3 linked regions of the Homo sapiens genome follow. The protein of the gene in region 1 interacts with the protein of each later gene in a pairwise test. Each region holds a gene or a part of one and is shown in the gene's direction. Other genes may lie near its edges. The genes, in order: GLE1, ZNF366 and CLCN7.

What was found.
Region 2: the proteins of GLE1 (region 1) and ZNF366 interact in binary tests that used the Homo sapiens proteins (3 or more experiments, as listed by UniProt).
Region 3: the proteins of GLE1 (region 1) and CLCN7 interact in binary tests that used the Homo sapiens proteins (3 or more experiments, as listed by UniProt).

Annotation. Positions count from the first base shown.
Region 1 is NC_000009.12:128,525,219-128,528,866, forward strand, and holds part of GLE1 (mRNA export factor GLE1), read left to right. Parts: coding exon 1-205; intron 206-1,960; coding exon 1,961-2,073; intron 2,074-2,237; coding exon 2,238-2,307; intron 2,308-3,392; exon of another isoform or gene 3,393-3,648. UniProt on the Homo sapiens protein: Required for the export of mRNAs containing poly(A) tails from the nucleus into the cytoplasm. May be involved in the terminal step of the mRNA transport through the nuclear pore complex (NPC).
Region 2 is NC_000005.10:72,444,855-72,448,502, reverse strand, and holds part of ZNF366 (zinc finger protein 366), read left to right. Parts: intron 1-1,085; coding exon 1,086-1,260; intron 1,261-3,648. UniProt on the Homo sapiens protein: Has transcriptional repression activity. Acts as a corepressor of ESR1; the function seems to involve CTBP1 and histone deacetylases.
Region 3 is NC_000016.10:1,458,002-1,461,649, reverse strand, and holds part of CLCN7 (H(+)/Cl(-) exchange transporter 7), read left to right. Parts: coding exon 1-47; intron 48-179; coding exon 180-245; intron 246-701; coding exon 702-834; intron 835-1,122; coding exon 1,123-1,232; intron 1,233-2,462; coding exon 2,463-2,543; intron 2,544-3,648. UniProt on the Homo sapiens protein: Slowly voltage-gated channel mediating the exchange of chloride ions against protons. Functions as antiporter and contributes to the acidification of the lysosome lumen and may be involved in maintaining lysosomal pH.

The DNA of each region.
Region 1 (3,648 bases):
GCTGAGGCTGAGCGAGCTCTGCGGGAAATGCGGGACCTCCTGATGAACTTGGGGCAGGAGATCACCAGAGCCTGCGAAGACAAGAGGAGGCAGGATGAAGAAGAGGCCCAGGTAAAGCTGCAAGAGGCACAGATGCAGCAGGGACCAGAGGCCCACAAAGAGCCCCCAGCTCCCAGCCAGGGCCCAGGAGGGAAACAGAATGAAGGTGGGTTTCAGTATGGATGTGGTCCTTTAACTCGTAAGTTTCAAATGTGAAGAGAAACAAGAGCATGTTTTGAATGTTGTGTTAAACTGTAGGACAGTTAACCAGAATTTTATGTAATGTATTTCATTCAGTTTTGGTTGATGTAGAGTCTGATTTACGATTCCAACACTTTGCGTGAGGACTTGAAATTCTGTATAACTCTAGCAGATACATTATTTCAATTATTGCTGCTGCTGAGTATTTTAAATAAATGCGCACAGATATGTGTTGGTGTAATACGTATAAGGGGTCAGGAGTTCGAGACCAGCCTGGCCAACATGCCGAAACTCCCATCTCTACCAAAAATAAAAAAATTAGCTGGGCATGGTGGCACGCACCTGTAGTCCCAGCTACTCGGGAGGCTAAGGCAGGAGAATTGCTTGACCCAGGAGCTGGAGGTTGCAGTGAGCTGAGGTGGTGCCACTGCACTCCAACCTGGTGACAGAGTGAGACTCCGTCTCAAAAAAAGAAAAAGAATCAGTGTACCATAGTGTTTGAGAGTGCTGACTCTGGAGCCAGATCAGTGGGAGTCTGGTTTTTGTTGTTGTTGTTGTTGTTGTTGTTTTTTGCGGGGAGGGGATGGAGATTTGCTCTTGTTGCCCAGGCTGGATTGCAGTGGCGCGATCTTGGCTCTCTGCAACCTCTGCCTCCCGGGTTCAAACAATTCTCCTGCCTCAGCCTCCCGAGTAGCTGGGATTACAGGTGCCTGCCACTGTGCCTGGCTAATTTTTGTATTTTTAGTAAAGATGGGATTTCACCACGTTGGCCAGGCTGGTCTCAAACTCCTGACCTCATGATCCACCCGCCTCGGCCTCCCAAAATGCTAGGATTACAGGTGTGAGCCACCGCACCCAGCCTGGGAGTCTAATTTTTCTTTTTTGGTGTGTTTTGTTTTTGTTTTTGTTTTTTTTGAGACAGAGTTTTGCTCTTGTTGCCCAGGCTGGAGTGCAATGGCACAATCTCAGCTCACTACAACCTCCGCCTCCCAGGTTCAAGCGATTCTCCTGCCTCAGCCTCCTGAGTAGCTGAGATTACAGGCATGCACCACCACACCTGGCTAATTTTTTTGTATTTTTAGTGGAGACGGGGTTTCTCCATGTTGGTCAGGCTGGTTTCGAACTCCCGACCTCAGGTGATCTGCCAGCATTGGCCTCCCAAAGTGCTGGGATTATAGGCATGAGCCACTGCGCCCAGCGTTTTTTGTTTTTTGTTTTTTTTTTGAGATAGGAGTCTCACTCTTGTTACCCAGGCTGGAGGAGTACAGTGGTATGATTATGGCTCACTATAGCCTCACCCTCCCAGGCTCAAGTGATCCTCCCCACTCAGCCTCCCAAGTAACTGGGACTACAGGCATGCGCCACCCTGCCTGGCTAATTTGTGTATTTTTTGTAGAGATGGGATTTCACCATGTTGTGCAAGCTGGTCTCAAGCTCCTGGGCCTGTCTTGGCCTCCTAGAGTACTGTAATTATAGGCGTGGGTCACCACACCCAGCCTTAGTTTTTCTACTTAGTAGTAATGTGACCATGGCAAATCACTTAACCTTTTTGTGCCTGTTTCCTTTTCTATAAAATGGAGATAATAATAGTATCTATTTCATAGTTATGGTGACAGTTAAAGCAGTCAGTACATACATAAAGTGATTATAACAGTGCCTGCCTCATATTACATGTTCAGTAAATACTAGCTATTACTAAAACCTCTCTTTTATTTCTCAGACCTCCAGGTGAAGGTACAAGACATTACAATGCAGTGGTACCAGCAGCTGCAGGATGCTTCCATGCAGTGTGTGTTGACCTTTGAGGGCCTGACCAACAGCAAGGACAGTCAGGTAGGGGAGAGGTATATGGCAGTAATTTTGTGGACTTGATGGTTCTCAGAGAATGATCACTTCGTGTCCCAAAGGAATGTAGCTGGCATGTCACTTTACCTGATTCTAAGTGACATCTACTCAGCTCTTCAGAACACTGCTTTCTCACTGTTCTCTTCTGGCAGGCCAAAAAGATAAAGATGGACCTCCAGAAGGCTGCTACCATCCCAGTGAGCCAAATCTCTACCATTGCAGGTTGGTCAGAGGGGTTGAGAACATGACCTTTCATTTCATTGTATTATCTTTCAGACTCCAAATCTATGTATCTGTAAGGTTCCTATAAAAGTATATTCAAACAAATGTTTACAGTTGGATCGGGTACATATAAGTGACATACATCTTGTTTCCCTGATATAATCATGGCTGGGCTCACGCCTGTAATCCCAGGACTTTGGGAGGCCGAGGTGGGCGGATCACGAGGTCAGGAGTTCAAGAGCAGCCTAACCAACATAGTGAAACCCTGTCTCTACTAAAAATACAAATACTAGCTGGGTGTGGTGGCTCTCACCTATAATGCCAGTTACTCAGGAGGCTGAGGCAGGACAATTGCTTGAACCCAGGAGGCGGAGATTGCAGTGAGCCGAGATCACACCACTTCACTCCAGCCTGGGTGACAGAGCGAGACTCTGTCTCAAAAACAAAAAAAGAAGACTCTTTTTTTTTTCTTTTTTTCTTTTTTTTTTTTTTGAGACAGAGTCTTGCTCTGTCGCCCAGGCTGGAGTGAAGTGGCGTGATCTCGGCTCACCGCAAGCTCCGCCTACCGGCTTCACGCTGTTCTATTCTCCTCCCTCAGCCTTCTGAGTAGCTGGGACTACAGGCGCCCACCACCATACCCGGCTAATTTTTTGTATTTTTAGTAGAGACGGGGTTTCACTGTGTTAGCCAGGATGTTCTTAATCTCCTGACCTGGTGATCCACCTGCCTCGGCCTCCCAAAGGGCTGGGATTACAGGCGTGAGCCACTGTGCCCAGCCCCCTTTTTTTTTTTTTTTGAGATGTAGTCTTGCTCTGTCACCCAGACTGGAGTGCAGTGGCGCAATCTCGGCTCACTGCAAGCTCTGCCTCCCGGGTTCACGCCATTCTCCTGCCTCAGCCTCCCAAGTAGCTGGGACTACAGCTGCCCGCCACCACGCCCAGCTAATTTTTTGTATTTTTAGTAGACACGGGGTTTCACCGTGTTAACCAGGATGGTCTCGACCTCCTGACCTTGTGATCCGCCCGCCTCAGCTTCCCAAAGCGCTGGGATTACAGGCGTGAGTCACTGCACCCGGCCTTTTTGACTCATTTTTAACAAGCTACCTTTTATGGCAAATTATTAGGATGGCTCTTAGCTTTGAAGTTGCAGTTTACTGCTGAAAACATCACTCAGGGAACCTAGGCTGTGACTTGCAGGCTTTGCTTCTGTCCTACAACATTAGCTTTTCCAAATTACTCCAAGCTCGCCTTGTTCATCCTCCAGGACTCCTTTTCTCTCCAGAGACTGAGGTTTAGAAAGTGAGAACCAGACAAGGAAGAAACTTCTTTAGAACCAGAGGTT
Region 2 (3,648 bases), on another chromosome or scaffold:
ACAGCCAAGGAAGGGCTGAAATTGTCCTGTTCTAGTAAGGCTTGGGGACAACAAAAGCACCCCCAGAGAAGTCTGCTTCTGGGTTGCGCTTTCTGCATATACAAAATCACCTGTGAGAAGAAAGTTCTGCTCCTCTTCCAAAAGCAGTTGGAGAACCAGTTGTCCTTCATGTATTTGCACTTTGATTGAAATAGAGAGAATGACGAGAAAGAAAGAAAGAGTATAAAACATGCTTACTTCCTGTACACCTGAGATACTACTCTCACTACTTCAAATTTCTACCCAGAGAAAAGACACACTCCTTCCTTAGATGATTTTTCATTTTTTTATCTTTGAAATCCATGCCAGTAATTAGAAAATAAAGCAACTTAAAAAGCATTGTCTGATACATTGTATACAATAATACAGTGTATTATAATAATACATTGTATATAAGAATACAGTGTACTCTTTTATTCTCTTCTGCCTGATACAGAAGAGTTGTGTTGGGAGACGCACAGTATGGTCTGGTGGTTGACCATGTGTTCTCTGGCATCTGATGGCCTGAGTTCATTAACCCAGCTTCAGCACCCACCACTTGTATGCCTCGGCCAAGTGACGTAAGTCCTCAGATTGTGCGTCTGTAAAATGGGGGTGGTAATAGCAACCATCTCATATGATTGGTGTGAGAATTAAATAAGATATTCCATGGTAGACTTAGAACAATGCCTTCCATATTGCAAATGCTGCATAAATATTAAACACATAATCACATTCTTATTATTAAAGGAGGAACACTTGTAGCCACTGCTTTTTAGATCAGCTCTTCTCCTTTTCAAAAGCTTTTATTCAAAAGAAGCTTTACAAGCTTTGATATTTTTACTTTGAATTTAAAGATCTCTGAAATCCAGGAACAAATCTCATGAATCTACCCCTACTTGCTCCACCTCTGAGGCTCCTTCCTGATTTCCTTATGGACATTTTCCTTGCAAGCAGATTAAAATGTCAATGTCCAAACAAAGTAGAAACGGTATCTGTGCTCCAGGGGCCTGGATGGGGCTTCACTCGGGCAGAGTAACCTGTGTTCTCATCCCCATCTTCAACAGCTTTGTGGGAAGGAATTCAACCGGATGCACAACCTGATGGGCCACATGCACCTGCACTCAGACAGCAAACCCTTCAAGTGCCTCTATTGCCCAAGCAAATTCACCCTGAAGGGGAACCTGACACGCCACATGAAAGTCAAGCATGGAGTCATGGAGCGGGGCCTTCATTCCCAAGGTAATCACTCTTCTGGGAAGCCCTGCAAGTCAGTCCAGTGGACAACAAATGGGAGCTGAATTCGTTTTATGGGGCATTACCTTGAGGGTTATTCTTGTCAAGACCACAGCAGAGTAGCAAGAGTAACCTTATAATGTTACTAGAAAAAATCTGATGCTAATTTCTGACATAGTAAGTACAAGTGAATTAGAGTAAATTGGACTATCATCATGATGCCAGTCGGTACCATTATTTGTTCCTTTGTTCCAGACACTACATCAGGTGGCTTGTCGCTAATATTCATGGCAACTCCAAGCTGGAAGAACTTCTATTATTTCTATTTTACAGCGGGGGAATGAAGGCTTCAAGAGATCAATTTGCCCAAAGTTGCTCTGCTGAAAAGTGGCAGAGTCAAGATTTGAACCTAGGCCTTTCTGACTGTGCAGCCTTTATTGTATCCTCTTCATGACTTTGCTGTGAATGGGCACGCAATTTTTCTTTCCTTTTTAGAAAACAGATGTGCAAGCCTTACTGTTAGCAGAAGTATGTTGGTAGCAGGCTAGGTCTTTCCTACTTGTTCACAATCAGACACACCCAAGGACAATTTTCCTGCTTGGTAGGTAGGGCTGATTGGCCCATATGCAGAGCAGGGGTTTACACCTCCCCCACTGAATCCTCACTGAACTAATGAAAAGTTCTCACTGCCTTTACCTTCTCAGTCCCAGAGCCCTTGGCAGTGAAGAGTTTATGTTCCAGATCTACTCAATTCAGCAGGGTTGCTCCTTAATCGTCTAATCAACCAGCCCTTCAATAAACAGGCAATAAATGCACTTGTGTCCAAAGCAGTGAACTACACGCAGCGGCAGATACTAGGGGAAGGAGACCATCTGCCCTCTAGGATGTCTGTGTTTGCAAAATCATATTAACAGCTTTTCGGTCACTAGTATGATCAAAGCACAGGGTGAGACACCTTAGGGACATTATTGCTTGGCCCTACAATGCCGTGAAAGAGACTGTGTTATTCTCATTTTATATAAGAGGAGACCAAGGCCTAGAGGTGTTAGATAAACTGCTCAAGGTCAAACAGCAAGTCTGAAGACAGAACTGGGATTCCAGCCCAATTTCTGAATCAAGCCAGTGCTCACTACCCTAGGCAGAAACATGGGGTGATTTGTTTATGTGCTGTTTCACTCACCTCCTTACAAAAGAGATGGTGGAGTGGACAAGCATATTCATAAACAGATAGACATATGCACACACAGTGTGAAACAAAATGATTGTAGCTTTCAGGTTTTTTACAGTACCCGCTGAGTTTCTAGTGACTCCTGGATAACAGGGAGCTGTGGTCACAAAAAAAGGGCTGGAGTTTGTGCAAAAGCCCTGAAAAAAATTGTAGTTAAAACAAAAACAATTTTATTTTTCCTGCAAAAGTTTTTCCCCTGAATTATTCACTGAATCTCTAGTTGCCTGAGCCACTTCCCCAAGCTAGACCTGGATTTTTCCGGAAGCGGTGAGGTTTGCTCTGTCATCAGGACGGGAGACATACAAGTCAGTGAGGAGACCACACTCCAACTGAAAGCATGACCTGGTCGCCATGATTTACCCCACACTGCTGCTCAAATCCTAAAAGACACCTAACAGCTCTGTTGTTCTGGAAAAATAACTATCAGAGGGTTGCTTTGAAAAATTTTAACAGACTTTCAACAATCTCAGTGTTTTCATCTACAAAGGGTATTAGCTTTTATTTTTCACTCTAGCTTTTGAAATGGCTCAAAAATCATTAAAAAGATCTTTCCTGTCCCCTGACAGGATTAAAGATACAGACAGCTTCATTGCCTGACAGCATCAAAAAGTGAACAAAATTGGACATCATCGCCCCTACCCTTCTTTTTTCACCCCCTCCCAGAAGCCTGGTCTGGCTGCACCCCAGGACCCCTCCCTTCCTGTTGCTCCTCCTCAGTGTCCCGCCCATCCCTGGAGGCCTGACTATTGGCTCATCAAAGGTCAAAGCCTTAAAGACAGGATCAAATGAAACTGCCATGCTGAAAAGCCCATCCCTACAGCCCTGCAAACTGAAGGCAAAAGTGAGGCCTCCTTGAATCACTGTGCCCAACAGCAGGGACACTGGAGGTCAGACACAGGGGCTGTGTGAGCTCCTCAGAGGACCTCTTCATGCCATCTCTACCCTGTCTATGAGTAGGCTGTTGGCAAAGGGGCCACAGTCAGGGGTGGTGTCTGCTGCCCCAAATAGGTTCTCTTTGTTTTGTTCAAGATGAAAATGGCTTTATTATTGATTTACTTTTGTTTATGATAAAACATATGCTCATGGTAAAAAATAAAACAATAATACATTAAAAGTGAAAAGAGAGTGTTCATTAATTTAAGATTTTGACATCCCTCCTTCCAAAT
Region 3 (3,648 bases), on another chromosome or scaffold:
CCAAGGAGATCCCACACAACGAGAAGCTCCTGTCCCTCAAGTATGAGGTGGGCGTCCTTCTGTCCCCCTGACCCTGAGACCCGGCCTCTGCCCCCTGCCAGCCCACTCCCGGTCCCCTGTGCCCGCACCCAGAGCGTGGGTTCGGTGCTGAGTGCTGCCCTTGCTGTCCCGGCCTGCAGAGCTTGGACTATGACAACAGTGAGAACCAGCTGTTCCTGGAGGAGGAGCGGCGGATCAATCACACGGTGAGCTGGACGCCGCTCCCTGCAGGGCCCCACGGTGCGGGGCCTGGTGCCGGCCGGGCCTGGGGCTGCTCTTCTGCCGGGGTGAGGTGACGCACCTCCTCCCTCCTCCTCTGACTCCGCCTCTGAGGCCTGTGGTTCGTCTGGTTTCTAGAGACAGTGGGAGGGTCACGGTCACCGTAACCAAGAAGGCTGCTCTTACGGCCGCCAGATGCGGTGCCCAGCATAACAACCGCTGGCTGTGAAGTTGTTGGGAATTCACCCACCTCCCCGAGTCACCCTCGGGCCCCGGGTGCGCCTCAGATGTTGGCCAGAAACTGTCCTTTGTGGGACTCAGCGCACCGTGCACACTGGGCCCTTCATAATCCCGGGGCCTGCAGGCGGTCTGGGCGGTCCTGCTGCTGCCAGAGTGACTGCGCCAGGGCCCTGCCTGACCCTCGCCCTGACCGCGCCCTGCAGGCCTTCCGGACGGTGGAGATCAAGCGCTGGGTCATCTGCGCCCTCATTGGGATCCTCACGGGCCTCGTGGCCTGCTTCATTGACATCGTGGTGGAAAACCTGGCTGGCCTCAAGTACAGGGTCATCAAGGGCAGTATCCTTCCCAGTGCGGCCGCTGCAGCTTGGGAGGGGGGCGTGGCCTGGGCCGAGTCCCGGGCAGAAGTCCTGAGCCCAGCGTGTTCCAGTGCAGGTGGAGGCGGCCCGGCCAGGCTGGCTGTGTCCCTGTCATGGTTGGGCCGTGAGACGTCTCTGGGATGTCCAGTGAACATCATGGCTCCACCCAGCAGGGTGGCATCTGCCAGGCTGGTCTGTGGGGCAGGGCTGAGGTCTGGGCTGGGTGGTCATGACGGGGAAGCAGCCAGCCCTCCTTGATGAGCCCCAGATATCGACAAGTTCACAGAGAAGGGCGGACTGTCCTTCTCCCTGTTGCTGTGGGCCACGCTGAACGCCGCCTTCGTGCTCGTGGGCTCTGTGATTGTGGCTTTCATAGAGGTGGGTGGCAGGATGCCGCAGCTATGGCGGACCCCATGAAGGATTGGGGGTCTTGGTGAATGGGCGGGAACCCCTGCAGCTCACCCACCCCCACCATCACATTGGCTGACAACCCGGGCACTTTTAGAATCACGTGGTCCAGACTCACAACCTCAGGAGGAGCAGACACACCAGGGCCTCTTCACCCCCAGAGCCCTGGGGTGCTGCTCCTGACCTACCAGCACAGGCCTGGGCACCCTCACCCCACTCCGCCCCTCCTTCCATCTCCTCACTCTGCCCTCCCCTCCTTCCATCTCCACCTCCGCCTCCACCACGTCCTTGATCTGTGTCTGGGCTGGGAAGAGTGAGAGCAGCTACCCCAACGACATGAGACCCTTCCCTGGGGCCCCAACGTGTGTGCTGCTCTTCCCTTCCCTGAGGCCCCGACGTGTGTGCTGAGCTCCCCTTCCCTGGGGCCCCGAAGTGTGTGCTGCTCTCCCCTTCCCTGAGGCCCCGACGTGTGTGCTGCTCTCCCCTTCCCTGAGGCCCCGACATGTGTGCTGAGCTCCCCTTCCCTGGGGCCCCGACGTGTGTGCTGAGCTCCCCTTCCCTGAGGCCCCGACGTGTGTGCCGCTCTCCCCTTCCCTGGGGCCCCGAAGTGTGTGCTGAGCTCCCCTTCCCTGGGGCCCCGAAGTGTGTGCTGAGCTCCCCTTCCCTGAGGCCCCGACATGTGTGCTGAGCTCCCCTTCCCTGAGGCCCCGACGTGTGTGCCGCTCTCCCCTTCCCTGGGGCCCCGAAGTGTGTGCTGAGCTCCCCTTCCCTGGGGCCCCGAAGTGTGTGCTGAGCTCCCCTTCCCTGAGGCCCCGACATGTGTGCTGCTCTCCCCTTCCCTGGGGCCCCGAAGTGTGTGCTGAGCTCCCCTTCCCTGAGGCCCCGACATGTGTGCTGCTCTCCCCTTCCCTGAGGCCCCGACGCGTGTGCTGCTCTCCCCTTCCCTGATGCCCCGACGTGTGTGCTGAGCTCCCCTTCCCTGGGGCCCCGACGTGTGCGCTGCTCTCCCCTTCCCTGGGGCCCTGACGTGTGTGCTGCTCTTCCCTTCCCTGGGGCCCCGACGTTTGTGTGCTGAGCTCCCCTTCCCTGAGGCCCCGACGTGTCTGCTGCTCTCCTCAGCTCCTGGGGCTCCTGGGGCTGAGGGGCTGCATCTGTCTCAGCCTGGCCGTGACCCACTCAGCCGTGCTTCCCCTCTTTCAGCCGGTGGCTGCTGGCAGCGGAATCCCCCAGATCAAGTGCTTCCTCAACGGGGTGAAGATCCCCCACGTGGTGCGGCTCAAGGTGAGGGTGCGGTGGCCCTGGCTGGGCAGGGTGGGCGCCCGCTCTTTGCTGGTTCAGGAGCAGCTCTCTTGGCTGCCTGCCTTCCAGAACTGGCCTCAGCCACCCTGTGTACTGGTGGCACTGTGTGCAGATGGGCTGGCTGGGTGTGAAGGGGTCACCTTTTTTTCTGAAAGTGGTAACAACTGGTATTTGCACATATTAAATTACGTAAGAAATGAGTAGTCATACAGAAATGCTTGCGTGGTGCATGTGTGACACAGCTGTGCGACGCGTCTGTGACTGTGGGCTGCGTGGTGGTGACTGATTCACCGTGGAAGCTGTCGTGGTAGTGGGCGTGTAGCAGTTTCCCGCTTTCAGTTTGCCTCATGGTCATTTACACTTGGTGTTATCAGAGCATCTGGTTCTGGAGGTGCTGGGAGTCCTGACCCAGTTCCGCTGTGGTTGCTTCTGTCTGTGCCGCCATCGTTCCTTAGCCTGAGACTTGCCGCAGCCCCGTCCCGTCTGAGGATGGGTGGGCAGCATGGCCGCTGCCCCCTGGGGGTGCTTCCGGGGCCTGGTCCCCGTGGCCAAGGAGCGGGACCAGTGTGTCCCCTCTGGCGAAAGCTCCCAGGTGACCTTGGGGTGCCCCTGCCCTGTGGTGGGAGATCAGGTTTACTGGAGCAGCTGGGAATGGCGACCCGCCTGTCACCCGCGCCAGGCTGGCCTGAACCTTCTTGGATGTTGCTCTATAACTTTTGTTGGCTGAGGGTTGAGTTTGCTCGGCATCTTTAACATACAGTCCTCCCCCACACACTCAGCGCCCTTGTGTTTAGGGTCTGCGCCCTTGTGGGTTCTGCCCTGGGGCAGGGAGGCTGATAAACACCTTACACACCTTCTCAGGTGGAGAGGATGAGGCCCCTGGGGGCGGGGAGCAGCCGAAGGGAGAGGGGGCATCGTGGAGCCGCAGGTGACCAGCCTTCCAGTGCCAGGGGTGTATGAGGAGCCTTGCTAGGCGGGGCTAGCGGGAACACCTCCCCTGTGCTGGCCACGCTGGCGGAGGCAGGTGTGCCTGTAGGATGCGGTGGGCGGCCCAGCTTTGCCTCAGGAAGGAAGGAAACGAAAGAAC